Linked DNA regions of Homo sapiens: all the other regions are linked to region 1. Evidence: fine-mapped expression QTL. A gene starts in region 1. Each other region holds a variant in brackets. All regions are shown on one strand. Distances are between the middles of the regions.

Region 1 (10,230 bases):
ACCCAGCTAATTTTTGTATTTTTTTTTTTAGAGATAGGGTTTCACCATGTTGGCCAGGCTGATCTCAAACTCCTGGACTCAAGCAATCCTGCCTCCTCAGCCCCTTAAAGTGCTGGGATTACAGGCATGAGTCACTGTGCCTGGCCATGTTACTATTCTTAACATATAAAGCATTTGTATAAATAATAAGAAATTAAGGCTTCAAAGAAAAACAAGCATAGAAAATAGGCAATTCAGAAAATAGACAATTCATTAAAGAAGGAAATACAAATGACTAATAACTGAAAAGAAGTTCAATCTCTCTGGCAATCAAAGAAATGCAAATGAAACAACAAGGAGGCAGAAGCTTTTGCCTTCAGCAAAGAGTTCTAAGATGATAATTCATGCTCATTACTGCTTAGGGTGTATTGAGATAGCTCTCATACTAACCCTATGAGGTAATTTCTTATTAGCAGGCCCATTTTACAGAGGTGGAAACAGACTCAGTAGGGTTCAGTAATTTGCCCATGCTTATACAGTTAGTAAGTGGTGGCACCAGGGCTTAGACCTGGGCATGTGGTTCTGCTATAAAGAGGGCCTGGAAAATAGCTGCAGGAAGGTGAGGTGAAGAACAGAGGGAAATGTAGCTGGAAGAGCAGGACAAATACATGTGAAGTGTCTACATGGAAAAGCAAATGGGCTTAGTGGTACTGAAGAGGGGGCAATGAGTGGAAGCTACACATAGGTGGATGCTTTTCAAGCAAGAACTGTCTCCAATGGACTAGAGAGGCCCAGGAAGGCAGTGAGGACACCCAGCCCTGGGGAGGCAGAGGAAACTGATGCTTTTGGGGTCTTCTTGTCTAACTCTTATGCAGGCTGCTGCAGGGAGTGGGGGGGATCTCATCTTATAGAGGAGGAAACACACCTTTAGATGGCCAAGACCTCAGTATCTGGTGTTTCTGCTCTTTTCTCAACCACAGACAGCTAGCAGACCTGGCTTTTCCTTCTAGGGCCAGGCAACGTGGGGTGGGAGCCCTGGCTGGTTTCGTTCCCCTCCTATAGCCAGCCACAGTCCAGAGCCAGCAGGAAGCTTGAGCTTGCCAATCTGTGAGGGCCAAGGCAGGAGGAAAGAGAGCCAGAGGGCAGGTGAGGCAGAGGAGCCATCTGAGTGCTCTCCACCTTTTCCCCTTTCCTGGTGCTTTGCTCCTCCTTGGCGGAGGAGGAGGGAGGGAGGAGGTAGGAGCAGTAACGTTGGAGAACAGGCAAACAGATGAAACAGACCCGCTGAAGGAGTGACACATTTATGTTAGTTGAAGTTTAGTGATGATATCGTCACTTGCAAAGTCCTTGAAGAATTCACTCTTAAAGTGGGAGGTTCATCCTGACTCTTGTAACCTTGGTTGCCTCAATCTTCGTCTGTAAAATGGGTATGAGAACACTTCCTTCTTTATTGACTTTAAATGGATCTAGTGCTTGGCTGACCAACAAGCTGGTGTGAGAGCAGAGTACCACAGCCAGTAGAGCCACTCAGTCTCTACAATTTTCCGGTTGGAGACTTGGGGAAAATCACCCAAGCTCTTCCTGCTTCTGTTTCCTCATCAGTGAAACCAAGGGTAGCACTTGCTTTAAATGGTTATCTTCAGGGTTAAACATGACTATGTGTGTGTGTGTGTGTGTGTGTGTAAGTATTATATGTATATACTTTTTCTTTAGTATACAGACTTATAGCCAAGAGTGATAATATATATAAAGTAATGGTAGAACCAGGACTCCAAAGCCCACAGATTTAATAATTATACTTTAGATGTCTCAAAAACCATAATGTATATAAAACAAACACATACAGTATAAAGACTAGAAAGAAACACAACAAATTATTAACAGTGTTTATTTATGGATGGTTGCGTTATGATTTATTTCCATTTTTTCTTTTTTTGAGAGAGAGTCTCACTCTGTTGCACAGGCTGGAGTGCAGTGGTGCGATGTTGGCTAACTGCAACCTCTGTCTCCCAGGTTCAAGTGATTCTTGTGCCTCAGCCTCCTGAGTAGCTGGGATTACAGGTGTGCCCCACCATGCCCTGCTAATTTTCATAGTTTCAGAAGAGACGGGGTTTCACTATGTTGGTCAGGCAGGTCTGGAACTCCTGACCTCAAGTGATCCATCCGCCTCGGCCTCCCAAAGTGCTGGGATTACAGGCATGAGCCACCAGGCCTGGCCCCATTTTTTATTTTTTTGAGACAAAGTCTCATTCTGTCGCCCAGGCTGGAGTGTAGCAGCACAATCTTGGCTCACTGCAACCTCTGCCTCCCAGGTTCAAGTGATCCTTGTGCCTCAGCCTCCCAAGTAGCTGGGACTACAGGTGCCCACCACCACGCCAGGGGAATTTTTTGTCTTTGTAGTAGAGGTGGGGTTTCACCATGTTGCCCAGGCTGGTCTTGAACTCCTGGCTTCAAGTGATCCACCAGCCTGGGCCTCCTAAAGTGCTGGGATTACAGGTGTGAGCCACTCCGCCTGGCTTGAGGTAAGAATCATTATCCCATTATCCAAATGGAGAAATAAGGCCAAGAGAGGTTAGAGAGTTGGCTTAAACTTCAGGTTTCATAGCTACTAAGAGGCAGATGGCCAATATCTGTAGGCAGATCTGGCTGTCTCTAAAGCTAGGTGCTATCGTCAGGGTTGCTGGACCATGGGGCTGGTGCCTAGGACTTCCCCACTCCAGTCTTCTGATGGAAGAGTTAAGGTGGGAGGCTGTGAGGACTGGGCCTGTGCTGGGTGTGCTATCATGGGTCTCCTCTGCCTACTCTACTGGTTTCCTAGGTTCATATTCCCAGTAGAGGACATGGCCTGGAAGGTGGACAGTTGAGGGGTACTGTGGAGTCTCCCTAAGAAGAAATACATGTTTCTCCTGTTGGGTATCCTATAGAGCACTGGTTCCCCACCTTTTTGACACCAGGGACCAAAATGTAAGTTTCCACAGACTGAGGGTGGCAGGGATGGTTTCAGGATGATTCAAGTGCATTACATTTACTGTGCACTTTATTTCTCTTATCATTACATTGTAATATATAATGAAGCAATTATATGACTCACCATAATGTAGAATCAGTGGGAGCCCTGACCTTGTTTTCCTGCAACCAGATGGTCCCATCTGGGGATGGGAGACAGTGACAGATCATCAGGCATTAGATTCTCATAAGGAGTATGCAACCTAGATCCCTCGCATGCACAGTTCACAATAGGGTTTGTGCTCCTAGGAGAATTTAATGCCACAGCTGATCTGACAGGAGGTGGAGCTCAGGCGGTAATGCGATAGGAAGCGGCTGTAAATACAGATGAAGTTTCACCAGCTAGCCCCTACCACCACTCACCTCCTACTGTGCAGCCCAGTTCCTAACAGGACATGGAGGGTTACCAGTCTGTGGCCCAAGGGTTGGGGACCCCTGCTATAGAGGAACTAAAAATAATAGCATAACTACACAAGATTGAGGGATGGAAGTGGGTGTGAGCCAGCTAAATCATTATCTATCATAGGAGGAAGGCAACAGACAGTGGCCAGTCCTGATAAATGCAGATGTAGCTATGTGAGCATCTTAATGTAGTGATGTGGAGGTAACCATCAGACCTGAAAACACCAGTGGCTTTAAGCAGCATCCCTGGATTGAAGGATGGAGAGGGAGTTCTTGCTTTTCATTGCAAGCCATTCTGTCCTATTTGATTTTTTTAAAAAAGCTGTGTGTATTATTTTTAAATTATTATTTTAAAAGTACAGGCTCTGAAAGTTAAAAAAAAAAAAAACGCTCTGGGGGCATCTAGTGGATTCACAACCCTCCCCCATCTGAGCTGACATTTTATCTTCTGGAAAATAGGGATAAAAGCCATACTCACCCCACAGAGTTGCTCTGAGGATAAAATGAGGTAATGCATATAAAAGCGCACTGACCAGAGTTGGCTGAAATTCAGCATCTATAATTACTAAACATCGTTATTATCAATAATAAACCAAGTATACGTTAATACTTAGGCCCTGGCACACAGTAGGCACTTAATAATGGGTGGAAGTAGTTATTTAACCCCCCACCAGGGCCTGTAATTTCCCCCAACCCGTGACACACTGGCCCCAAGGCTCCGAGTGAACACTTAAATATTGATGTGGTTACTCATTTATTCATCACTCGGCTCTCCGCCGCAGAGTCTGAGGAGGGTGAGCCCCGCTCTCGGGCCTCCCGCGCCGCCGCATGGCCGCATCCCGGCCCCCTGCGCCGGGAGAGATTGGAGGCGGCGGCAGCTCACCCGCTTCCAGGTCGCCGATGCGGGACCGTCACGTGGCGGGGCGGCAATCGCTCCAGTTTCACTCCGGCATTTTCCCCCGCAGGGGCGGACTGGAGGAGGGGAGAGCGCGGCCCGGGGTCAGGGGAGCGGCGGGGGTCCCCATCACCCCAAGTCCGCGCCAAGAGGCTGGCCATCCCAGGAACTGCGGGCCGGGACCCTTTTACGGAGAGGGCTTTCCGGAGCAGGGACTTTTAGAAGGAAGACGTGGGATTGGCCTGGAGGCGCAGAGCGGGTTTTTCGTACCTGGCCGCGGGTGTAGGGCTCCCCACAAGCGAGGCCGGGTTGCTTCGGGCGCCCCCAGCCAGGGGCGGGGCCACCGCGGGAACTCCGCCCACCCTCTGCAGAGGCCGCGCACCGCCCCTTCCCGCTCCGGGCTGGTCTGCGGCTGCCGGGGCGCGAGCTGCGTGCCCGCATCCCTGTCGCACCGCCTCGCCGGTTGGGGCGGCGGGCGCGGGGCGGGGCAGGGGGCGGGGCGCTGACGTCGCGGCGCGGCCCGCGGCCAGCGGCCCGGTGAGGCGGGGAGGCGGCGGCCGGTCGGCCCGGCCCAGCCCAGCCCGCAGCTGCGGCGGCGCTCAGAGTTGGTTCCTGACCGCCTTCTGCCGCGGCCGGGTTTGTCACCAGGTCCTGGGGTCTGCACCGGCTCGGCCAGACCTCGCCCCCCGCTTCTCCGCCATGGCCCTGGTGCGGGGCGCGGAGCCGGCGGCGGGGCCTTCCCGCTGGCTGCCCACGCACGTCCAGGTGACGGTGCTGCGGGCCCGCGGGCTGCGGGGCAAGAGCTCGGGAGCGGGCAGCACCAGCGACGCGTACACGGTGATCCAGGTGGGCCGCGAGAAGTACAGTACGTCGGTGGTGGAGAAGACGCACGGCTGCCCCGAGTGGCGTGAGGAGTGCTCCTTCGAGCTGCCGCCGGGGGCCCTGGATGGCCTGCTGCGGGCGCAGGAGGCCGACGCGGGCCCGGCGCCCTGGGCCGCGAGCTCCGCCGCCGCCTGCGAGCTGGTGCTCACCACCATGCACCGCTCGCTCATCGGCGTCGACAAGTTCCTGGGCCAGGCCACGGTGGCGCTGGACGAGGTCTTCGGCGCAGGCCGCGCCCAGCACACGCAGTGAGTAGGGGGCGCGGGGGCACAGAAACGGCTAAAGGCCTAACAGGGCGGGGCTGGTGGGGGATCAGGACCCCGAACTTCAGCCGGGCCAGTGAGCCCTTGCCTCGTGCTTAAGGGCGTAAACCGACAGAAACGTTGGTTCTTCGCATTTCGGGGTCGTCTTCAAGCTTCCCAAACGTGCGCTGTGTGGGGCTCAGCCACTGGTGGTCCCTGGGAGGCCTGGGGGAGGTTTAAGTGGTGGCGAACGTTAGGAGTAGATTGTCAAGTAAAGTTAGGAATGAGATTCAGAGGCTTTGGGGCTATGGAAACCTCAAGAAGGGAAATCTTGGGGCCGTTCTTAGAACCTCCGGGCCTGCCTCCCTTTCCTCAAAGGGGAGGGGAACTGCGGGCGCCTGTCCGGCAGGGGAGTGGAGAGGCGCAGCCTTGCCCTACGGGGGAAGGAAAGCCAGGTGTCTTCCTCCAGGGCGAGGTTGAATGTTGATTACCCCGCTAAACGTAGAAGCTGGCTGCAGGGGGCATCTGCCTCTTGCTCTCAAGATGCCCTCCACTATCTAGAGATGTCACCCCCCCACCCCCATCCTGTCCCTCTGTGTCCTGTGTCCCTGGTCTGAGGATAGGAGGAGCTTCTAAGTTAAGGAAGGAAACACTTGAGTCAGCCTTCCAGTGGCCTGCCTGCCTGCCCTGCCCTGCCTGAGGTAGAGGCAGCGGCATGGTTAATGAACAGCAGGAGATTATCTCCCGGTCACTTCCACCTCAGTGGGCCAGGGTTTTTTTAAATCATTTATTTTGGCAGCATTTAACCTTGCCTGTGTTAAGATCAAGGCTTCAGCCTTGGAGCCCCATTTCCTGTTTTGGGCTTGGGCAGGAGCTGGAAGCCAGTCCCCGGGGCTGACAGCCTGCTGTGGATCACTCAAGTGGTTAACTTGGGAGTGATCTGGGTAGGAGGGTAAGGGGATTGGGGCAGGACTGTGCCTTAGGTCAGGAGAGGTGCCGGAAAGGTTTGCCCCAGTGGAATGGCATCCACTGAGTGAATAAATCCAGGAAGGCTTGCTGGAGGAGGGGGATGAGCCTGGTGCAAACCCAAATGAAAGCAGGATTTAGGTAAAAAGGATCTGACCTTGAATGTTTTCTGAAACATGGGTGTGGAATGACTTTCCTGGCTGGCTCTCTGTGGTCTGGGATGGGGAGGGCGTTAGTGCAGGTTCCAGGCATGGCTGTGACCTGACTCCATTTCCCCATCCCCTGGCCTGCTCCCCGCCTTCCTTCATGACTTGCTGTTTGGTGGCAGGGTGTGGGATCATGTGGTATATAGCTTGGACCTTGTTTTTTTCCTCCTTTCTGTCCTCTCCCTCCTTCCTGGTTCCTGGAGCCCAAGGGGGTGGGTATATGGGGCGAAAAGCTCTCTCCTGGATCTCTTAGCCCATTCTTTTTCAGAAGAGGTGCCTATCCCCCAAATCATTCCACCCCTTCCCCCAGTCCTTCACCCTCCACCAATCAGCTACTCTGACCAGACTGTTAGATGACACATCTGTTCAGGGGGTGCTGGGGGAACAGGAGGAGGCAGACCAAAAAAAGGCTCCAGGCCTGCAGGGAGCAGCTTCTTTGATTGTTTTTTCCAGTTCCTGCCCTTGCTTTCCTCTTGGCCTCTGGATCTTCCTTAGCTGAGCTGGCCAAGCTTGTAGGTCCAGGTGGACCCATTTTCAGCCAAGAACAGCCTGTCTTGGAGAATTTGACTTACCACCCCTTGATCTGAATGGGAACCTTAATTTATTTTATAGAAATCATCTTTTCCACCAGGATCTTTCCACACCCACCTGGCTGTTTTCTCTGATGCAACAACCTGGTTTATTTATAGAACCGGGGGGGGAACAGGAGTGGGGAGGGTCACTTAGGATGGGCAGAGGAAAGTCTGTGAAGTTGGCCTGGTGCTCTAGTTTACTGGACCTAACAGCATGCCCACTGACAGAGGGGGAGGGCTGTCACCCCCGCTGTGGTCCCCACCTCTGGCTGTAGTGGTCATTCCTGGTGGTATTTCCTGGAGCACCCTGGTGTGGGCTACCAAGACTGAGTCTGAACGCTGCCTGGTAGGGAGAGGGCAAGGCAGAGAAGACCAGGGTGTACCCTCCTCAGCTTTGGATAATGGTGGAAATGAAAAGTATCCATTCTTTAACTCCAGGAGTTGGCTGTGGTGGTCTCAGGTAGGGCAGGTGGTGGCCCTTTGCCAAGAGAGGACCTGACTGGGGAAGGTACCCTTATGGTTAGGAAGGGGCTACAGAGTGGCACTGGACAGATCCCAGTCCCAAAACTGCCACCTGTGGCAAGTCATATAAACTCTTGGTGCCTCAGTTTTCACGTCTGTAAAATGGAGATAATTTATACCTTCATATGGTTGATGTGAGGGATGAAATGAAAATGCAGCTTAAGCACCTAGTACAGTCCCTGTACATGGTAGGTGGTCAGTGCAGAGCAGTGATGGTGAAGGGAGATTTTAGTAACAATGTCTGGAAGAGCTTCTTATGGGATGGGGGAGACAGTCTAGAACTTAGAGCCTAGGAAAGCCTTAGGACCATGGGTGACGGAGTACACAGAAGAGTACGAGAGTTCCCAACAAAATGAGCTGGCCCTTTGCAGCTCTCTGTATTCTATTTGCTGCAAGAGGCCCAAGAAATAGGGCTGGGCTTGAGAGGCCTCTGCAGTCCTGAAACCAGGCTCAGATAAGCCCGCAGCTCTGCAGCTCTCCTCCCTGGCAGCCCTGCCTGGAGCTGCCCCTGCCCTGTTGGGAAGGAAGGATGGCCCAGGGCTTAAAAACCTGGAGACTGGGATTTCACTCCCCGTTCTGTGACTTACCAGCAGACAGGTTACTTATCCCACTTCCTCACTTTGAAAAAGGTCATGATAATAATCATAGAGTTGTACAGATTAGATAAGACACCATCTGTAAAAGCCTTAATGTAGTTCTGGATACATAGAAGCTCTCAAAATATTAGCGTGGTGGTGACTCTGGGGCCCCATTTTGTGTGATGGTGGTGGCTGGGGTTGTAGGTGCTTCAGCAGCCTCCGAAGGTCTTGTGTGAGTGGGGCAGTCTTTGAAATGAGGAATTTCACCAGAGGCTTCCAAATAATTGAAGAGGATATTCTCAAAACAAAATGTAATGGTAGTACACAAGGAAACTAATGATCTCCCCACCCTCAGTAGAACTGTCCATGGATCGTCATGTTCCTGTTGGTCTGGAAATCCTGGATGCTTCTCTGCGATTTATTTTCTGGTTTTTATCTTCAACATCCTTTTTTTTTTCTTTTTTGAGACAGTGTCTCACTCTGTTGCCCAAGTTGGAGTGCAGTGGCAGAATCTGGGCTCACTTGCAATCTCTCCCTCCCAGGTTCAAGCGATTCTCCTGCCTCAGTCCCCTGAGTAGCTGGGATTACAGGCATGTGCCACCACACCCAGCTAATTTTTGTATTTTTAGTAGAGACTGGGTTTTGCCATGTTGGCCAGGCTGTTCTCAAACTCCTGACCTCAGGTGATCCACCTGTCTTGGCCTCCCAAAGTGCTGGGATTACAGGCATGAGCCACCACGCCTGGCCCAACGTCCTTCTTAGCACTCCCCAGTGGGTGTCCTGTGTTTGCCTCCCTAACTCCCAAGACAGGGATGGGATGTGGTGGTTAGTTAGTTTTCCTTGTTCCCTGTGGGGTCAGATGGGTCATTTGGACCTTTTTGGTCTTTATGCGATTGGTGTGGATCACACCCCCAGGGAATGGACCTGGATATATCAGAAGAGGGAAGGAAGGAAGCAGCAGCAAAGGTTTTGGAGTAAGAAGACAGGGCATCTGCCACAAGGCCATTTTGGTTGGGGAGACCTGGTCTTTGCCCCCTGGAATGCTGGTCTTTGTGTGTTTTAGGAGAGGAGGAGAGAGCACAACTGTGTTATATGGAGCCCCTGTCCACCTTCTCCCTCATCCTGATAAGGGTGAAATGGTCCCTGCGGTAAGGCCTGGAGTGTGGCAGACAGGATCGTCATCCTGGGCCTGTTGGATCAATGGTTAGAAGCTGGCCTCTTGGGAAAGCAAAGGCTGTGGGTTCAGCTTGGGTTGGGATCAGTTTGTCTTTTTTCATCACAAAGACTAAAACTGTTGTGACCATGAATTGTGGCCTGCAAGAGGCTCCGTTCAGCCCCTGCTTAGACTGTGCCACTTGGCAAGGGAGCTCGGAGAGCTGAGGCTGTGAAAGATGTAGGTCTGAGATGAGAGCCTTCTGCCTGGCTGGTCATGGTGTTCTGAGACCTCCTTAGGTGGGTGGGTTTGGGGGCACTGGGAGGCACCTGAGGGGACATGCATCCCATTAGCCTAAGGCTGGGATGGTCTTTGAGGGCTTCCATCTATCCCGTAGCCCACAGACAGCCTGGGCAGACAGTTGGTGGGCAGATGGTGCGTGACCCCACAGCCTTCTCTCTGTTGGCTTCTGGGTGTGACTCTGCCCCTCGGGAAACAGCTGTGGTCACTTGAGCCCCTGGCCTTGGCTCCTGCTCGGCCCCAGAGCTGGCATGGGAGGCCTGTGGCACTGCTGGGGAGGTCTACTCTGGCTGCAGAGGAAGGGTGTGGCTGCACTCAGAAGCCAGTCGTTGGTATGCCGAGGCTCCACGGCCCTTAGTTATGGGGTGGTTTTTATTTGGGGTTGCTTGAGCAGCAGCGTCTTGGGGTGTGGGGCGGGGTAGGAAGTGTGACTCCTCAGTCAGGCTGGGCAGCTCCTCCTCTCTGGCCTGGCAGCTTCCCCTGCCCTCCCCATCTGCCCCTGGCCCTGAGCCCTGGCTGGGACCAGG
Region 2 (10,230 bases), 20 kb after region 1:
GTGCAGCATTTTGTCATGTTGATGTGCACATGGGGACACATGCGTGTGCACACACCAGTGCCAGCTTGTGATCAGTATGATGATGAAAGAGGGTGAGGGGGGCCGGGCGTGGTGGCTCACGCCTGTAATCTCAGCACTTTGGGAGGCCGAGGCGGGTGGATCACCTGAGGTCGGGAATTCGAGACCAGTGTGACCAACATGGAAAAACCCCGTCTCTACTAAAAATACAAAATTAGCCAGGCGGGGTGGCACATGCCTGTAATCCCAGCTACTCAGGTGGCTGAGGCAGGAGAATCGCTTGGACCTGGGGGTGGAGGTTGCAGTGAGCTGAGATCGAGCCATTGCGCTCCAGCCTGGGCAACAAGAGTGAAACCCCATCTCAAAATAAAATAAAAACATAAAGAGGGTGAGGGGTGGTTGCAGTTGGGGTACTCAGGGAAGACTGAGGAGGCTTGGATGAACAGAGCCCTAACTCGAATGAGTGAGTGAACCATGGCCAGAAGGTCTGGCCTGTGTCTCAGGCAGAGAGAGCAGCACGTATAGTGGCCTTGAGGTGGGAACACACCTGATGGGTTCAGGGACACCAGGAGAATCACTGTGGCCCAAGTGGAATGAGAGATGCAGAGGAGCCAAGCCCCAAAAGGTGCTGAGTGAGGGAGAGCGGGGCGTGCTGAGCTCCCACTTCACGTCTTTGCTGGGTGGAATGTGGACGTCAGGTAAACAGGGAAATCTAATGTCCATCAGGGAGGTGGTGGTGGATGGGACTATGGGGTGACAGTGGTGAGAGAGTGAGTTCTGGAGATAATTGCAGGTAGAGTTCACAGAGTTTGAAGTTTAGATGTAGGGAGTGAGGGAAAAGAAGAGACAAATCTGGTTTCTAGGTTGTTTGGAGTCTGGAATAAATGATGAGTGGGGGCTCAGAAAGGGGCATTGTTATTTGGGTCTGAATTTTAGACTGATAAGAATTGGGGGTGAGTTAGATGTGTCCAGGCCTGCTGCTGCAGCTACCCATAGCCCCCACACCCCTGTCTGTCTCTGACTGGAGTTCCCTGGCACTTGCATGGGTATGTGTGACAGCTGCCCCAGGTCAGCTCTCCCCTGAGTGCAGGACCTCCCCAGTTATGCTGGATGGCATTGGTTAGCCCAGCTTCATTTTCTGAGAACTAGGTGGAGAGCTGGTTATGAGGGCCTGGGGACCCCACCAGCAGGAGTAACTAGGGCTGTAATCTTGGTGACAGGTGAGCAGACTTGCTCCTCTCCACCCCTTCCATCCACTTTGTCCTCTGCTTTGGTGGTGGGTGGGGGGAGGCTGAGGGCCGAGACCCAAGTCCACACGGGGCCTGGTGAACTTTGTCAGGCAGAGAGAGCTTGGGAGAGGTGTTCTAGCTTAGCAGGGGGCCCTGTAAGAGCTTCCTTGTGGTCCCAGCCTCTCAGGAATTCTGGACCCTGATGGCTTCTGAGGGAGGCTGGGCTGCTCTCGGACAAGGTTTTGAGGGGCTAAGGACAGGACAAAACCCTGAGGTCCCCTCAGTGGCATCTCAGGGCTCTGTGCTCTGGGATTGTGCCAACCTTTTGAAAGGGGGTCTGGTCTTCAGGGTCTGTGATGTGTAGCCAGGCCTTTACTGGCCTCTGTCTTCTCAGGGTACTCAGGGCAGGAGTATATGCATTCTGCTTTTCTGAAAGTTGCTAAACCTTAAAGGTTAAGGACATGGGCTTGGAGGCTGGCATTTTCATGTTCAAGTTCCAGCTCCATTACTTACTAGCTGTGTGGCCCTGGGCAACTTACAAACCATCTCCACAACTTAGTTTCCTCATCTGTAAAATGGGCCTCCCATCTCCTGGGCTGGTTGCATGGATAATAAAAGAGCTGCAGAGCCAGGCACACAGTGAGCCCTCAGCAGGGTCAGCTCTGGCCATTCTCTAGCCCCCTCATGTGCAGCCCTCTGCTCAGGTGTGGCCTCTGGGCCAGCAGCAGCATGGGTAGCTGGGAGCTCTCTCAGGTCCACCTACACTTTGGGTATCAGAATACACATTTTAACAAGATCCAGTGATTTTTTTTTGCACTTTGCAGTTTGAGAAGCACTGATGTGTGTCTTCTGAAGAGCAGCATCAGTAGCTGCGTGTGCCTCTTCAGGTGCAAGGAATTTTCTCTTACTGTGCCTTTTCTTACTGTGTCCATCATGTCCTGGCTGCAGAGGCACCTGGGACAAGTCCCAGATAATCACCATCTTCATCAAAACCCTTGTGTCCTGAGCATGTGCTGGCTGGGCCTTGGAGAGTTCAAGTGCCCCAGATGGTGCCCCTGACAGAGAGATGAAGTCAAGGTGGGTGCTTTGCAGGTGGAGCAGCTTAGTTCCTGCAGTGAAGGATGTGCCAGTTAGTGATATATGTGCTGCAGGCAGCCCGGACTCTGAGCACCAGGTGGGTGTCAGGGGAATTGTATGGGGGCAGAATCACTGTCCTTCCTCCTGGTTTGGTGAGAGTGTTGTTTCTCCAGTGGTTTCTGATCTAGGAGGCCTAATTCATCTTAACACTCTTAATTTCTAGAAAGTGCTTAATGCTGCCTGCTCCTCCCCAGTGTGTTCCTTTGGTAACTTACCCCCTCCTGGGGGAGGGATGAGTATTTCTAGGGTCAGTCCTCTCAGAAGCAGCGTGTCCTCGGGACTTGGGAAGGCAAGCCTTACTGGGCAGGAGAAAGACACAGGTTTCTCCTGGGTACCGATTGAGTGTCCTTAAGGACAAGCCCAGGTGGAGAGCCCAGGTGGCCGCTGACCTTAAAGTGATGTAAAGCGTTAGGGACCATCCTTGTGGTTCCCACATGGGGTCTGGGTGAATTCACTCACCTGTGGGGCCCCACCCCCAAACCCACTGAGAAATATAGATAACCAGGCCGGGACCTTCTAGTTCAGTAAGTCTGGGTGGCGTCTTGGGTGGATTTATATCTGTATATAAATCCTGCACCGATGCATAGCAGGTTTGGGTGCTACAGCTGTGGAGCTGTGAAAATGAGAGCTGTCTTGTGAGCCATTGTCTAGATGAATGTTGGGGCCTTGGTCACACCCTGATTGATTTTGGCCATGTCTCTGCCCTGGATGAAAGTGACAGGTCAGGCCTCAGCTTGGGCTTTGGAGTTCCTAAGCCCAGTGCCCCAGTCAGCTAGGCCTGGTGAAGGGCACAGAGAGGGAGAAAAAACCTTGATCAGGTAGGGAGGAAGGAACAGTAGCAGAATCTCCAAAACTGGAGACCAGGGCCTATCTCTTGCACAGCCAGACTTGGGAAGTTGAGGTTGGATTTTTTTTTTTTTTTTTTTTTTTTTGAGACAAAGTCTCACTCTGTTGCCCAGGCTGGAGTGCAGTGATATAATCTTGGCTCACTGCAACTTCCGCTTCCCAGGTTCAAGTGATTCTCATGCCTCAGCTTCCCGAGCAGCTCAGATTACAAACGTGTGCCACCACACCCAGCTAATTATTGTATTTTTAGTAGACACGGGGTTTCGCCATGTTGGCCAGGCAGGTCTCAAACTCCTGGCCTCAAGTGATCTGCCCGCCTTGGCCTCCCAAAGTGCTGGGATTGCAGGCATGAGCCACCATGCGCGTCCGAGGTTGAATATTTATTAAAGGATCTGGCACGTTCCCTTGAAGGCTAGGCAGAGCGATCGGCGTCAGGGATTCAAGAGCAGGAGTCCTAAGAGCTCACGGTCGTGGGAGAGAGTGAGAGGATAAGCTGGTTTTGCCAACCAGGCTTGGCGTGCCTTAGCCTCCCAACAGCCAAGAGGATGGTTGTCCCCACCTGAGGGCCAAGGAAGCGGAGGCTGAGGGAGGTGACCTGGTCAGTGGGGGACCCAGCACTCACCACCATGCCCTGCTGTCAGGCGCATCCAGATGAGAGCTGAGAGAGGGCCCTGCAGGGTTGTAACAGCTCCAGACTGTGCATGCATGATTTCTTTACTTTGGAGCTGTGTGCCCCAGGGGATACTCAGTCAATATCCACAAGAAACACAGTCCAGCAAGGGAGACCTTGGGTGCCCAGGACATGACAACACCAGGGGGTCCTGGGGCACGGTGCTGCCAGATCTGGCTGTAGAGTGAGTTTGGTTCAGAGTGTGTATGCCTGGTCAGAAAGAGGAGGGACTGGGCCAGGCCAGCAGGATGGTGGCAGCTGAGGGAGCTTCCCAGAGGAGTGGGACTTGAACTAGGTCATAGGACCCTGCTGTCATATTCCCCGTGGGGGCTTCAGTCTCTAGGGATGAGGTGCTCAGAGCCCATTTGCTCTGCTGCGTGTGGGGCTCTGTGAAAAGAAAGCCTCCATTTGTTTTCATTGCGGATTCCTCAGCCCCCCTCGACAGTGTTCATAGTTTTCCATTCTCCAGTGGACCTCCATGGTGCCCGACAGGTCTGTGGGGCTGTCTGGTCCAGGCACAGGGAAGTAGCACCTCTAGGGAGGGGGAGGATGTGGCCATCTCAGCTCATGTAGGCCATACTTCTGGGAGAAGGTCTGCTCTGGTTGAGTCCCTGGGGTGCCCAGGGTGGCCAAGGTGCCAGGCAGTATCCCATTCAGTCCTGCCCTTGACTGGGTTGCAGAGGGAGGTGGGGCTGGAAGGGAGGTGGACGAGTGATGGCAGCTGGGGTCCAGAGGTAGGTCCTGGCCATTCTCCATTTCACTGTGCTCTGGATGGGAGAGCCTAAAAAATATTCAGGGAAGCTTTTTCTTTTTCCTTCCGTGCTTCCTTGAAAAACAAGTCCAGGGAGAAACCCAAATTCCCTGTGGGGGAGGGCTGGGCAGAACAGGAGAAGGGGAAGTGACCTTATAGGGGAGAGAGGCCCAAAAGGTCCTTGTGGCAAAGGACCTGAAACTCGGCCTCCCGCCTTCCTCTGAGGGCTGGGAGGCAGAGGAGCACGGCCCATTTTGTGGCTCAGGAAGCTGAGATGAGATAGGAGCAAGAGCTTTCCCTTGTCTCTTTTTCCTATTACCACAGTAATATATGCTCCTTATAAAACATTCAAATAGGACAAAAATAGACAATGTAGGAAGTGCTAGTTCCCTGCAATCTCACCACAGGGCCCCGGTCCCCTCAGGTAATTGCATTACCGCTGTGGTGTGTGCAGTGTGAGTAGCTGGGGCTGAGGGCCCCTGACCTGTCTGCCCCAGCAAAGGCTGGCTGTGCTTGCTGATCCTAGTTACTCAGGGCTTGGGCGGTTTGGGGCTGGAGTCCATACCCTTCTCTTTTGCCCTACCTCCCAGGACTTTCCTGTGCTAGATAGGGCCTAGCCCAGATTTAGGGAAAGTGACTAGGGCTTGGCCTCTAAATAGGTAAAGGGTCAGGCCCACGGTGGTCACTGGGCTGAGAACGTAGAGGTGTGAGGCTGTTGATGCTGCTGGCTGGTCTTTCTGTCAAACTTCCTCTCCTGCCCCACAGACACCCTCACATACATCCTCCAGTCTGTCTGTCTCA[A/C]TTAGCCTCTCCTCCCCTCACTTCTGCCCGTGCCTTATGAGAGAGGCACCCGCTCGGGCATTTTCTCTGTCCGCCCTGCCTGTGGCACCATCTGTTCCTACCCGGCCTTCTCAGGGGATTGTCTCTCAGGTTTGGGAGGGAAAACCAAAGTCTAGGCTCAGGCCGCTCAGGCTGCGGAGTAGGTCTCCACGGAGGGGACGGGCCATAGCCCACCAGGATTTCGTCATGATGGGCTCTTCTATAGGGATGTAGAAGAGTCAGAGGTGCCCCAGGAAGCCTTTTTAAAAAAACTTCAACATTAAAAAATAATCAAAATACTACCACCACTACCACCAAGCTTTTGCTGTGACTTAATTCTGGATCTTTGGATGTATAGGGACTTTTCATACAAAGGCTCCCCACACCCCACTCTGTGTCCACCAGAAGCTCAGGGAGCTGGCATTGTTGGGGGCAGAGCTCAGGCGGGAGGTGGATCCTGCATCACTGACTGCGGCTTGGGTAGCTCTGTGTGCGTGTGTGTGTGTGTGTATGTGTGTGTGTGCTGTGCAGTCACCAAGGGACTTTGAGCCCTTTAGTGACCAGCCTGACCACTACCACCGGGCTTTATTCCACCTTCATGCTCGATTGGCTGGGTCTGGAATTCCAGGCTAGTGGAAGGCTTTTCCCTCAGAAATGTGAAGACATTCCTTCATGTGGTGCCCAGTGTTGCTAAGGAAGACTCCAGTGCTGTTCGAATCCTTTCATGCCTGGTGTTCTAAGCCTCATAGTCATATCTGTTGGCATGTGTCTGTCTTAGTTCATTGCGCTGCATACTTGTAGGACTGTTCTAGCATTCATGTTCTTCAGTTCAGAAAAACATTCTTGTATGATTTCCTTCATAGTTTCTTCCTTTTTGTGTTCCCTGCTCTCTTTTTTTTAGTTAATAAAGTCTATTTTTCAGAGCAGTTTTAAGTTTACAGAAAAACGAGTGAAAAGTATAGAGAGTTCCCATCTACTCCACCCACGCCCCCACCGCCATTTCTTCTGTTAACATCTTGCATTAGTGTGGCATGTTTGTTGTATTTGAGAGCCAATATCAACACGTCATTGTTAACTAGAGTCTATACATTATGTTAGGGTTCACTTGCTGTTTTGTGCATTCTGTGGGTGTATAACAATGCATGTCCACCATTACGGTAGCATGCAGGATAGTTTTTCTCTCCTGAGAAGTCCCTGTGCTCTGCCTATTCATCGCTCTGTCCTCTCTTCAATCCCCCAGCAACCACTGATCTTTTCACTGTCTCCATAGTTTTGCCTTTTGCAGAATGTCAAATAGTTTTGTCGTGCAAGCATGAAGCCTTTTCAGATTGTCTTCTTTCACTTATGTATGTAAGATCCATCCGTGTCTGTTCATGGCTTGATAGCCTATTTATTTTTATCATTAAGTAGTATTCCATTGTCTGGATGTACCACAGTTTGCTTATCTTTTCACCTACTGGAGGACACCTTGGCAGCTTCCAAGTTTTGGCAATCATGAACAGAGCTGCTATAAACATTTGTGTGCAGGGTGTTTCTTTGGACATAAGTCTTTACCTCAGTAGGCAAAGTACCAAGAAGTGTGATTGCTCCTTGTGTGATCGGAGTTTGCTTAGTTCTCTAAGAAACTGCCAACCCCTGCATAAGAACATCTCTCCCCAGTAGGGCGGGCCCCAGCCACCCTGTGTGGTGGCCATGTGTGTTGGGGGCTGTCTCTGTGTCTCTCTGGGCACAGTGGGTGTGCACCGGGAAGAACTTAAGCTTTGGAGGGCTGGACACCTGGCTCTGAGTCTCCACGGATGGGTTCCTTTACCACTGAGCCTCACCCTCCTGATCTGTACAATGGGGTAGTACCTCTTACCTCATATGCTTTTTGGGAGGTATGTGCGGGAGTGAGGTAAGAACCCTCATGCTGGTCGTAATGCACCATAGATGCTCAACAGATATGAGCGCTCTTCGTCTTTCCTGGGTCTCTTTCTGCCATTCTTGTCTGTTCCTGCATCTTGTAGAGGTATTCCTGACAGGGCTTGGGGTGAGTCAGTGTGTGAGTGAGGTGTGTGTGTGTGTGTGTGTGTGTGTGTGTGTGTATACATACATGAGTGTATGCACTAGCATTCCTGTGTTCCTGGCCCTGGGCCTCTGGGTGAGCTGTTCTTTCCTGGGCTCACGGTGGCTGGGAGCAGAGCTTTGGCTGGGACTGGCCAGAGGAGATGATGTCAACAGGGAGAAATGTGGGTAGGTCTGTCTGTGCTGGGGCCTGGAGATGGGAGGGCTCTCCCAGGCCCAGCCTCACCCCTCTGGGCCTCAGAGTTTCAGATGTAGGGGAGATGGGGCAGAGGAGAGGTCTCTGAGCACCAGGAGAAGGTCCTGGGGTGGGAGGAGGCATGGTGTGGTAACCGCCGCCCTACCTGGTGGCACCCGAGGAGCTTCCCCACTCAGGATGTGGTTTTCTCCATCATGGAAATGTTTTGGATAGTTTCTCAGCTGCATCTGAAGCCTGGAAGCCCAGGCCGATGGGTCAGAGCAGGAGCCTTTGGGGAGAGGCTATCAGTGGCTCTCAGAGCAAGGAGGGGTCTGGGCAGTGCCTGGTACCGGGCGGGAGCCAGGCTCCCTGGGCCCGTGACTGAGTTCTGCCTGCTCCCCTCTTCTCACAGGTGGTACAAGCTGCACTCCAAGCCAGGCAAGAAGGAGAAGGAACGCGGCGAGATTGAAGTCACCATCCAGTTCACGCGCAACAACCTGAGCGCCAGTATGTTTGACCTGTCCATGAAGGACAAGCCAAGGTCTCCCTTCAGCAAGATCAGGGACAAGATGAAGGGCAAGAAGAAGTATGATCTGGAATCTGCCTCTGCCATCCTCCCAAGCAGCGCCATAGAGGATCCTGACCTGGGCAGCCTGGGCAAGATGGGCAAAGCCAAAGGCTTCTTCCTCCGCAACAAGCTGCGCAAGTCGTCCCTGACCCAGTCCAACACCTCGCTGGGCTCGGACAGCACCCTGTCCTCAGCCAGCGGGAGCTTGGCCTACCAGGGACCTGGCGCCGAACTCCTCACCCGCTCACCAAGCCGTAGCAGCTGGCTGTCCACTGAAGGGGGTGAGCAAGCACAGGGCCGCCGCCCTGGGGAGGGGGGCACTGGCTCTCCCCTTGGGTGGTGATGAAGGCCTGGGGCCAGGAAATGGGGCCTCTCTTCCTGCGAGCTAACTCTGTGTGTTTCCCCTGCAGGCAGGGACTCTGCACAGTCCCCCAAGCTGTTCACCCATAAGAGGACCTACAGCGATGAGGCCAACCAGATGCGAGTGGCTCCTCCTCGGGCCCTTCTGGACCTTCAGGGCCACCTGGATGCTGCCTCCCGCTCTTCGCTCTGTGTCAATGGGAGCCACATTTACAATGAGGAGCCCCAGGGCCCTGTGCGGCACCGCAGCTCCATCTCGGGCTCGCTTCCATCCTCTGGCTCCTTGCAAGCTGTCTCTTCCCGGTTCTCCGAGGAGGGGCCTCGTTCCACAGATGACACCTGGCCCAGAGGCAGTCGTAGCAACAGCAGCTCAGAGGCAGTGCTTGGACAGGAGGAGCTGAGTGCTCAGGCTAAAGTCCTGGCCCCTGGGGCCAGCCACCCTGGAGAGGAGGAGGGGGCCCGGCTACCAGAGGGCAAGCCAGTCCAGGTTGCCACACCCATAGTGGCCTCCTCTGAGGCTGTGGCAGAGAAGGAGGGAGCCCGGAAGGAGGAACGCAAGCCCCGGATGGGTCTCTTCCACCACCACCACCAAGGCCTAAGTCGGAGCGAGTTGGGTCGCCGAAGCTCTCTGGGGGAAAAGGGGGGTCCCATCCTGGGGGCCTCCCCACATCACTCATCCAGTGGGGAGGAAAAGGCCAAGAGTAGCTGGTTTGGCTTGAGAGAAGCCAAGGACCCGACTCAGAAACCCAGGTAAGTCGTTGGCAAGACCAACTTTGCTCCTTGGGGAGGATGCTGGGGTGTGTGCTGCCTGGACCCTGGGGCAGGGAGGAAGGAGTAGATATGGACCTCAGGCAGGCTGCTGGGGCTCTGGCTTTGCATGGTTTAGTGGGGTGTCTCCCTAAGCCAAGGTTCGTTCTGTGCTCACGGACACAGGTGAGTTACGAGGGCATAGTGCTCTGAGAGTCCTATGGATTGAGGGGTCCGACTTCTCAGCCCTAGGCCTTGCTGCATGAGTTGGCATGCCCACCCCCTGAGCTGGAGGGAAGCAGGAAAGTCCATTTGTGTGAATTCTTTGCTTCCTGACCTCCACCTCTTGCCCTCTGGCCTCAAGGTAAGGAAGCCTTGGTAGAGAGATGAGGACTGGAGACCGCACTCTCAGACTTCCCTTCCCCTCTCTGGAGCTAGAGGACTTCTCCCCAGCTGTCTCTGTGATCACTTCCCTCTGGGAGACGGGAGTCAAATAACTGAAGCCACCACTCCTTCCCCCGTCCATTCACCTGCCAGTTGCTTCCCCAGGCAAGAGGCTGTGGGCAGCTCCCATGAAATCTGTAACCCATCTCTGTCCTTGGAGACCCTGGGAGCTCTGGCCCTCTCTGATGTCTCTTGGTCTTGAGGTATGGCACCGTGGGAAGTGCTGGTGGCAGCTGTTTTGTTTTGAATATACTGAGTCCCCCATTTCAGGCCCTGGGCAGAGACCCTGATGCCTACCATTTGCTTCCTCCTAATTCTGAGCCAGGAGAGGCTGCAGAATTGTATAGCAGGGTCCAGAGAGGGGCTCCAGGTACAGGTCACAGAAGTGTGTGTCGCACCTTC
Region 3 (10,230 bases), 890 kb after region 1:
TTGCATTTGTGGATTGTCTCTCTCTTCATCCTTTTATGGGATGCTCTAGAGCCTTCACTGGGGAGCTCCCTGCCTGTCTCCCTCTGATAATACCTGGCTTCTTTCAGGTCTGGAAAGAGGTGTCTTGCTTATTGTTAGAACCATAAATTGTTGCACTAAACTTGTCCTGTTGTCATAAAGAGTGTAGCTTTAAAGCAAATGGTAACATGACCCTGCTTTGCTCAATTTCAGGCAACTTGAATTTTCTAACTCCTAATCTCCGCCTGCTTCTCTTTGCTTCGTAATCTTCGTAAATGCTCCCATCACTGTTGGAGTTAGATCTTAACGACGTCTCCCTATTTCAAATGTAGTATATCCTGAACTCCATGTGTTACTTTTTCTCCTCTTCTACCTGCTTTACCATTTTTCTCTTTTCCTCCTCCCCATTAAAGGCATCACTACTCAATCAGTCACTCATACTAAGAAACCTGAGATTTATTTGAAACAAATTTACAAGAAAAAAACAAACAACCCCATCAAAAAGTGGGTGAAGGATATGAACAGACACTTCTCAAAAGAAGACATTTATGCAGCCAAAAGACACATGAAAAAATGCTCACTATCACTGGCCATCAGAGAAATGCAAATCAAAACCACAATGAGATACCATCTCACACCAATTAGAATAGCGATCATTAAAAAGTCAGGAAACAACAGGTGCTGGAGAGGATGTGGAGAAATAGGAACACTTTTACACTGTTGGTGGGACTGTAAACTGGTTCAACCATTGTGGAAGTCAGTGTGGCGATTCCTCAGGGATCTAGAACTAGAAATACCATTGGACCCAGCCATCCCATTACTGGGTATATACCCAAAGGATTATAAATCATGCTGCTATAAAGACACATACACACGTATGTTTATTGCAGCACTATTCACAATAGCAAAGACTTGGAACCAAGCCAAATGTCCAACAATGTTAGACTGGATTAAGAAAATATGGCACATATACACCATGGAATACTATGCAGCCATAAAAAATGATGAGTTCATGTCCTTTGTAGGGACATGGATGAAGCTGGAAACCATCATTCTCAGCAAACTATCGCAAGGAAAAAACCAAACACCGCATGTTCTCACTCATAGGTGGGAATTGAACAATGAGAACACGTGGACACAGGAAGGGGAACATCACACACTGGGGCCTATTGTGGGGTGAGGGGAGGGGGGAGGGATAGCATTAGGAGATATACCTAATGTTAAATGACGAGTTAATGGGTGCAGCACACCAACATGGCACATGTATACATATGTAACAAACCTGCACGTTGTGCACATGTACCCTAAAACTTAAAGTATAATAAAAAAAAAGAAACCTGAGATTTATTCTTGATTCTTCTTTTTCTCCCATTTTACTCATTTCCCTGGACATAAGGTGCATTATCAAGTGATGTCAACTCCATGTCCTACCATACCTCATCAGCCCCATACTTAGACACTTTTGATCGCTTCCCTTTGCCTAAATGACCAAAACCAAACATCCTTCTCCTGGTAAAATCCGAACTTCCTGACTCCAATCTACTTTAACAGCCTTTTCTACTTTTTCTCTCTCATCTATACTTCAATCATACCTTCCCCCAAATTCCTTGCCCTTTCATATCATTTTATCTTTGCAATCACTCTTCCTCCATCATCAATACTCTTCTTGGCCTGGTGAATAACATTAGGAAGCCACATTAGTTGTGTAACACTAAAATAAAGCTATCACCTCCTTAGTTTTGTTTTTACACTACAAAGTTGTTTTGCTAAGTTGAGTAAAATTATAAACATCCTAGGGAAAGACTCTTGTTAAAAAGAAGACATATAGATTTAAGTTATTTATTTATAATTTTATTTCAGTGATTAAAAGAATGTGGTATTTATTAAGGTTTGCTTTATAGCATCTTTGTGGCCAATATTTGTAAATGCTCCATGGATCCTTGAAAGAATGTGTATTCTCTGGTAAATGAATGCAATGTTACATATCCAGTGGATAAAACATATCAGTTGTGCTCTTCAAATCTACTACATTTTTACTAATTTTTAAAAATCTTCTTTTATCCGTTACTGAAAGAAGGTGCTAAAATCTCCCTCTGTGATTATGGTATATCAGTTTACCCTTATAATAGTTTCAGTTTTCACTTTGTGTATTTGTGTGTTTTCAGACTATGTTATTGGTTATGTACAAGTTTAGAAATTTTATGTCTTCTTGGTGAATTATTCTTTTACTAGTGTGTAGTGACCCTTTTTATTCCTATTAATGCTTTTTCACCTGATAGTTTTTACTGGACCGGTTTTCCTTTTCAGTACTTGCTCAGTATGTGTTTTTCCATTGCTTGACTTTGAACTTTCTGCATCCTCATATTTTAAATTTATCTCTTATAGGCAGCATATAGTTGGATTTGCTTATTAATACAATCTGAGAACCTCTATCTTTTAACTGATGAATTTAGATCATTGCTGTCATATTTTCCTTTTTAACATCTTATTGTGCTATTTATCATACCTTTTATTTGCTTCTCTTGTTTTGTTATCTTTTATTTTTTATATTTTGGTTTTAAAATGTTAGCATTACAGCTATGAATGTATGGAATGCAGATATAATTCTTTTGGTTTTATATAGTGGTTGTCAATTCCATTGCTTCCTACCTATCTAACAAATTTGCTTCTGGTTAAGAGGGCAGATTCCCAAATCTTAAAACACTTGTTTTTGCTTTTGACATTATTTAATTGACTGACAGAGATGTCAAATATATATAATAATCACCACTTGGCTGTTCACATACTGTACCTTGAAAACCAATTCACTGATGTGCCAGGTCTACTGACTTAATGAGCGAAGTTAGTCCCTTCATAAGTGCTGCCAGAATGAGAGTGCTTTGGTAATGACATTATGACCTAGTCAAAGTGAACATAAAACCTAAATTCACACTTTTTCTGTAAAACATGACAACCTAAGTAAACCTAGATTTTTAAAGGGAATGGCAGGGAAAATGGAATAATGAAACAACTTACACATTAAGAGTACAACTTTACTTTCCAGCAACACCAAACTGCCCTGTAGTTCCTTGTGTGGATGGTGCTATTTTCTTCCTTCATGTCTTTCCTTCTACTGCCTCCTCCCCTGCTGGGATAGCCTTGTCTTTTTCGCTCTGTTTTTTTAAATAAACTTTTGGGGGAATAATTTTAGATTTACAGAAAAGTTGCAAAGACAGTATTTAAGAGTGCCTGTGTGCCCTTACTCAGTTTCTCCTAATGTTAACATCTGTTTTTTATTACAGTGAAACATTTGTCACAACAAGAAATTAACAATGATATATTACTATTAACTAAACTGTAGACTTTATTTGAATTTCATTAGTTTTTCTACTAATGCCATTTTTCTGTTTTAAGACCCAGTTGAGGATACCTCGTTGCATTCAATCATCATATCTCCTTAGTCTCTCTGTCTTCTATTTGATTGTTTTTTAAATCCCCTTTCCCCTCTTTTTCCAGCAAATGGTTGTTTTACATTCTCTTTCTATTCTTTTAAAAGGGGTTTTACATTCGATTTCTAGTCTTTTAGAAGTTACCAACACACTGTTTCTTAGGGTGTGGCGAGAGAGTCACATACGCGGTTGTTGCTGTAGTACTATAAATGGATACAACTTCTGAGGAGGGAATTTGATGTGCATGTCTTTTGATCCAGCAGCTCCACTCCAGGGACTCAGTCCTACAGATTTATATACTTACATGCATTTACCAAATTATTCACTGTGTCATTTTTTATAGTTGTTTAATAGGATACTAATAAAGAGGTGCTTTATATATGGATAAGAAATAATGCCCAATATATAGTTAAATGAATAGGGATAGGGGGTGAAAAATGTAAAACTGTATTTTACTTTAGTATGCCATGATAAAAAGGTTTCCTTATCATCTCCCTATACCAAGGGGTAGATTTGTTTTCTGGTCTACCCTTTCACCAAGGTTCAGCTCTTGAAGAGCCCTGTCTTCACACAGAAGTCTTAATTCTAACCTTGCTCCATAGACAAGTCTAAGTAATTGTCTCACAGTCTCCACGTAGGCTTGTAAACCCAAGCCTCGGATCCTCCCTGTCCTCTAGGGCCACTAAAGGAATATTTATGTCACTATCTCATTCCAATAATGATTTTTTAATTCAGTGTCAAATGTGTCAACAACTCTTTCACCTAGAAATATGAAAATTTAATAAAGAATAATGTCTGCAAAGAACTTAGCCCAATACCTGACACATCAAGTGCTCAGTAAGCATTAATTTGTCATTGTTGTTTTGTTATAATTTTCTGACTGTTGTTAGACTTGTTATTGATATTTATATTGCCATTTCTCAAACTTTCTTATACTTCTTTTAATGAACATAAAAATATGATATCCTATGTAGTATTATTTCAAATTATAAAATAAAGCAGTTTGATGTCTAAAATAAAATAGGCTGGGCGCGGTGCCTCATGCCTATAATCCCAGCACTTTGGGAGGCCACAGTGGATGCATCACTTCAGCCCAGGAGTTTGAGACCAACCTGGACAACATGGCGAAACCCCATCTCTACTAAAAAAAAAAAAAAGTATGTGTATTTATATATATATACACACACACACATACAGAGAGAGATGTATATACACATACAGAAATATATGTATACACAGACATATATATACACATATATACACATCTATATATATACACACATAGATGTATATATATATATACACTTACGTATACATATATATATATACACACACATACACACATACACACACGCACACACACACACACACACACA[G/CAG]ATTAGCTGGACGTGGCAGCATGCATCTGTAGTCCCAGCTGCTTGGGAGACTGAGGTGGGAGGATCACTTGAGCACAGGAGGTTGAGGCTGCAGTGAGTGGAGATTGCACCACTGCACTCCAGCCTGGGCAACAGAGCGAGACTTTGTCTCAAATAAATAAGAGCAGTGATAATTCTCAATATGCTTTTTGAAACTACACATATATTTATTTGTTCCTTCCTCCTTTTCTCTCCAAGAAGATTCTGATGTACATCCTTCCAATGAAAGAGTACTTGTACCCTACTTGAAATCCATTTATTTAGTGTGTTTCCAATTTTGTACTGTTGATTTTATTTTTAAATTTTTTTCCTGAGAATTGAGTAGTATGTATCTTTGTACATATAGCATTTTTAGTCTAGTAGATGATTCCCTTCAGGTAAATGTTTATGAGTGAAATCGTTGTGGTAGGGGGTAGAAATATTTTGTGATTCACAAGAGATAAGGTAATATTTCTTTCAAAATGATTTGTCATCGTGCTATTTGCAGTGGAGGAGTATGCTGATTTTACCAAAACCTTGCAGAGGAGTTAATATTTTTAATTTATTTGCTAATCGTTAGGTGTAAAATAGCAACTTCTCATTGCTTTGTTGCCTATTTCCCTGATTACTAGCAAATGCAAACTAGATGTTTATATAACATACATTTCTAATACCTTTTATTAATTTAATGCATACTGGCCAGGCATAAATCTCAAAAATCCTCGTTTAGGTGCTGGAAAAAAATTGGAGCTTAAATAAACCAAAATAGGAGAGAAATTAAACAGAAAGTGGCTGTGTTTATAAACAAACAGCCTTGAAACATAAGACCATTGTGATAATTGGAATCGCCTGTATTCCAAAATGTCCTGTTTAATAGATGCCAAGTTCACCAACTAGCTGGGAAAAGACAGAGCAGTGTGTTTACCCCTAAGGTGGTCAGACAAGACAAATCTGAATTCCTAGGCTCCACAATTACTCTCTACCCAAAAACTTATGCCCCAGTCCATCTGAGTGTTTGCATTAGGGATTCTGTCCTCCTGAAGTGTTACAGGACTCTTGCTTTAAAACAAACAAACAAACAAACAAACAAACAAAAAACAGGCCTTCACTAGGTCTGAGAGCCTTCTGTCTTTATAAATGTATTTAATAGTAAATCAGAAACACATGTTCTTTTTCCAAACACCATTTTAATTCAAAAAAGCCCTTTTCATTAGATGATATATACACAAAGGCTACAGATTACAAAGGCAAAAAATTTAATTTTAAACTATACAAGGATGCTTGGGAAAAAATCTTAACAGGATAGTAATCAGAGATGCTAACCCTTCTGGCTTGCTCTGTTTGCAATCTACTATTCATCAGGAATACTGTCTAGGGAGAGCCTGAAATGGTTTCATAATCTGTAACCACAAAGGGATAACTCAGATTTTTATCTTTTATACACTGCACTCATAACTTGGTGGTTTACTCACTTTCCCAAAGTCTAAGTGTGTATGGTCCGATTTAAAACAAGCTGAATGAGTCTTTGTGTTTTGTTGTTTTGTTTTTCCACTGTATTTTCTGAGTAGTGGTCTCTCAGTGACTGTTAGCTATTGAAATCAGTTAACCCTCATACCTTTATCTGCCTGTTGGGCTCCTTCTACATTTTCAACGAATTAGAGCAGAGCCTGGTGACCAAGGAACAGGCAGCTGTGGTTTTTGGCATAGGATGGAGGCAGGGGTATAGATCAGAGAAGATGAATCTTAGAGACATACTGAACACAGATGCTATTGCTGCTACACATTTTCAGTGCTAGTGACTCACATATATAACCACTAATCTGTGAAGAGAGAGTGAGTATATTGCAAACCCTTACATAAAAGTACCTCCTCAGTGCCTTAGCCGTCAGCCTCACCTTATTGCTTTAGTTACTGAAGGATAATGAATATGTGAGATGCCTAGCAGGAGAGTTCCCTCTGCCCAGTTAGGGTTCAAAGTAGCTTGTGATAAGTTATTTGAAATGCTGGTGATGCATTAAATGAGATACACAGCTCATTGTGCAATAATAATAATATTTTCCACAAAAATGACCCATGTAGCCCACCAGCTGCATGACCTATCTCTAAAACAGCCTAGTACCAGATATTTCCTGAGGAATATACTTGTACCCCATAAGGACACAATTATGAGACACTGTATGTATCATAAGAAGAAAGGTTATGTGCTCTCTCCAGCTGATAATCAGCTTAGCTTCTAGTCCAGGGCATTTTATTTGTTTTTGAGATTATCAATAACTAGATACAGTGACACTCAAATATACAAGGTTTTTGTATTTTAAAATGATTAAGAAGCTTCTTGAATAAACTGTCCCTTGCCTTTGGCTCTGCCTATAAAAATATAATCATTATATACTTGTTCTTGTGGTCTACACAAAAAACATTTTCCCCCATACTTTAAGGCCCACCTTTCCTGTAGAAAGCCTTTTGCGATCAATTGTGGACACAGAGCCAACCCTTTGAACTTTTCCACACATTGCATTTTCCTAGAGCAGTGTAGAGTGGCAGTCATAGTATTCCCTATATCTTCTAGGACTCACTATTCAAGTACCTAGAACACACCAGGTAGTGGGATCCAGCAAAAAACAGAACAGAAGTTGTACATGTTTAAAAGAGTCCCCATCTTCCCTGGCTATTCCATTAGTGAATTCTCCATGAAGCTCTTACTGACTTATCATGGTGAGTTCACTGGCCATTTCTCAATACTTCTGGATCTCTGCTCAGTCATCTTTCACCTTTTCCTTCATCTCCCTTGCCCTTACCCAGTTTCACCTCCTCATCTTGATGCTGTTAATTGGCTGGCTAATTCATAAGAGTTTCCCCAAACCAAAGAGAAGACAGATAAAAGAATTTAGTCACAGAGTATTTATGATTTTCAGATATAACGTCAATCAAATAGAACATGATTTTAAATATCTTCTGGGCCCAAACCCTGAGCTGAGTATAGTGACAATTCAGAAGAAATTAGTTCTACCCCTGGGTAATTTAAAAGTTAATTATTCTTAGAGGATTATTCATTCATTCACTTATTCACCATATGTTTGCTAAACATCTGCTATGTCCCAGGCACTTGAGATACATCAATGAACAAAACAGGCTGAGATTCCTGACCTCATGGAGTTTACAGTTTAGGGTAGACGAGTAAGGAAATAGATAAATAATAAGCATAAATAATAGATTCTGTAGTTGTAGTTGTAAATAAGTGCTGTAGAAGGAATTAGAAAGCAGAAAAAGGGAAAGGGATTGGAGAGTATGGGGATTTGGGAGGACAGGTTGCAGTGTTAAATACTGTAGTCAGAGTAGGCCTGATTGAGGTGAGAGATGACAGTGCCTTGAGGGAGATGAAATAGGCGGATATCTGTGAGAATAGCTTTGCAGGCAGTGGGAGAGCCATGGTTTATCATTTAAAATTTACTGGCATTTTTAAATTTAGTAACTAACGTAGAGTCCTTTAGTCTTATTTTTCACAAGTAGAAACTCGTTGTACCAACTGAATGTCAATCCTGGCTTAAAGTGACTTTCATTTGAGGCAGATTTTTGACAGAAGCCATTGTGTTTGTTTTACAGATTGGAAAAGTAAGTCTCAGAAAAGAAATGGGAACTAACTAGGGTGTGGGAGAAGGATGAAGAGAAGTTGACTAATGGCTACAAATACATGGTTTGATAGAAGAAATAAGACCTAGCGTTCAACAGATCAGTAGAGTGACTATGGTTTACAGTAATCTATTGTGCGTTTCAAAATAGCTAGAGAGAATAACTTGAATGTTTCTAGCACACAGAAAAGACAAATATTTAAGGTGATGGATATCCTAAGTAAACTGATTTGGTGTTTACAAAGTATGTGAATGTATTAAATTATCACCTGTACCCCTAAACTATGTACACCTATTATACCTCAATTAAAAAAATTAATAAGGAAATAAATGTCTTTAGAGTCACAAAACTGAACAACATTACCCAGGGTACAATGTTTGAGGTTAGTACAGCAGTAGTGTATCGTGCACAGTTTGTCTTCATCGTTCTTTAGAGATTTTTTTTCTTATAAAGTAAATTGATTTCAAATATTTTCTTTGATATGATGTTGTCACGAATTTCCCTATGCAATATAATAAGCTTGTTATAAAACAAGTTAAGTGAATTTCATTGAAGGGATGAAATATATAGCCTGAAGATCCGAAATACAAGCCTAGATCACTTTTTAGTGGCCAGAACCACACAGTACTTTCTTTGAATGCCCTGCAAATTATTAGGGATGTTTTCTTGGAGGTCAGAGTGCCCATCTGGAAGGTTTCTAGGGCTAATGATAGGAGTCTGCTTGTGATCATCTCTGCTGCCCCCAGGGGGCATGAGGAGGCAGCCCTCCTTCCTGTATTTTCTAGTTGCCTTGGCCAGATTCTAGAGAGCAACACATCTGCTTGGGCTCAACTGGGGGAGGGGCAGCAGAGATAGGACTTGCAAGTAGCAGGGCCAGCACCTAGAAGCAATTAAGAAAGAATGGAGTATAGTCCTTAAACGAGCTCAATCCACTTTCTTCAGGCCCTGGAAAATACGAATGCCAGCAGATAAATTCACCTGATTTCCATCTATGGATACCTAGTGGAGCCTTAACATTAAAAGCTTATTAAAACATTTATGTAGTATTTGAAATTTCCAAATCCCTTTACAATTGTTTATTGGCTACTTAATCTCTGCAGCTTCCCTGAGAAGTAAGTTGATACTTTCATCCCCATTTTGGAGATTAGTCACAAAAAGGTTAAGTGACTTACCGGAGGCTGTACCGTGAGTCAGGTCCCCAGTAACTTCATGGTACATGGACCCGTCTTCAACTGTGTCTCCATCAGCACAAATCACTTAACCAATCTGAGCCTTAGTTTTTCATAAATACATGGGATACTAATGATCTTTGTACTACCAATTACAAAAAAAAGATTGTGAAAATAAAATGAGGCAAACTGAAAGTGCTATAATGATAGTTATAATTAGGTGATGGATTAAGGCAGAAGGATGCTGCAGCCTCATTATTTCATATTTAGGGAGTGCTACTTGTTTGAGGCCAGAGCAGAAAAAAATGAAAAGAGAAAACCTATGGCTGACCCTCTAACAACACTAATTCCTTCCTCTTCCTGTTTGACTTAGCTTAGGTTAGATAGAGTAGGGAAGAGAAGGAAAACAAAGAATAATAAACTAAATATTTAAAGAGTGAGGAATGCTAGGAGGAGAAAAAATGAAAGAGGTAAAATTGTGAGTCCTCAAGACTAGAATGACAATACTATAAACTGCTAATCTTGACATAAGACTTATTGTATGAACTCAAGCAGTATTGCAGCATGGAGAGAGGGGCTTAAAATTTGAGA

The links. PIP is the estimated chance that this variant, and not a neighbour inherited with it, causes the effect.
Region 2: its variant is fine-mapped to the expression of RAB11FIP5 in whole blood (INTERVAL, PIP 0.98).
Region 3: its variant is fine-mapped to the expression of RAB11FIP5 in memory regulatory T cells (Schmiedel 2018, PIP 0.95).

The regions. Positions count from the first base shown.
Region 1 is chr2:73,107,529-73,117,758 of GRCh38, reverse strand. It overlaps RAB11FIP5 (RAB11 family interacting protein 5), which reads left to right and starts at 4,811. Exons shown (of 6, transcript NM_001371272.1): 1 at 4,811-5,412. The coding sequence starts at 4,982. RefSeq lists silencers at 4,483-4,642, 4,713-4,802, 5,960-6,203.
Region 2 is chr2:73,087,207-73,097,436 of GRCh38, reverse strand. It overlaps RAB11FIP5 (RAB11 family interacting protein 5), which reads left to right. Exons shown (of 6, transcript NM_001371272.1): 2 at 8,122-8,558; 3 at 8,688-9,387. Among named protein-coding and RNA genes, the nearest start is that of SFXN5, 21 kb to the right of the region's middle. The variant A/C (reference allele first, on the strand shown) is at 5,453.
Region 3 is chr2:72,219,391-72,229,620 of GRCh38, reverse strand. All of the region lies in intron 20 of EXOC6B (exocyst complex component 6B), which reads left to right. Among named protein-coding and RNA genes, the nearest start is that of CYP26B1, 77 kb to the right of the region's middle. The variant G/CAG (reference allele first, on the strand shown) is at 4,823.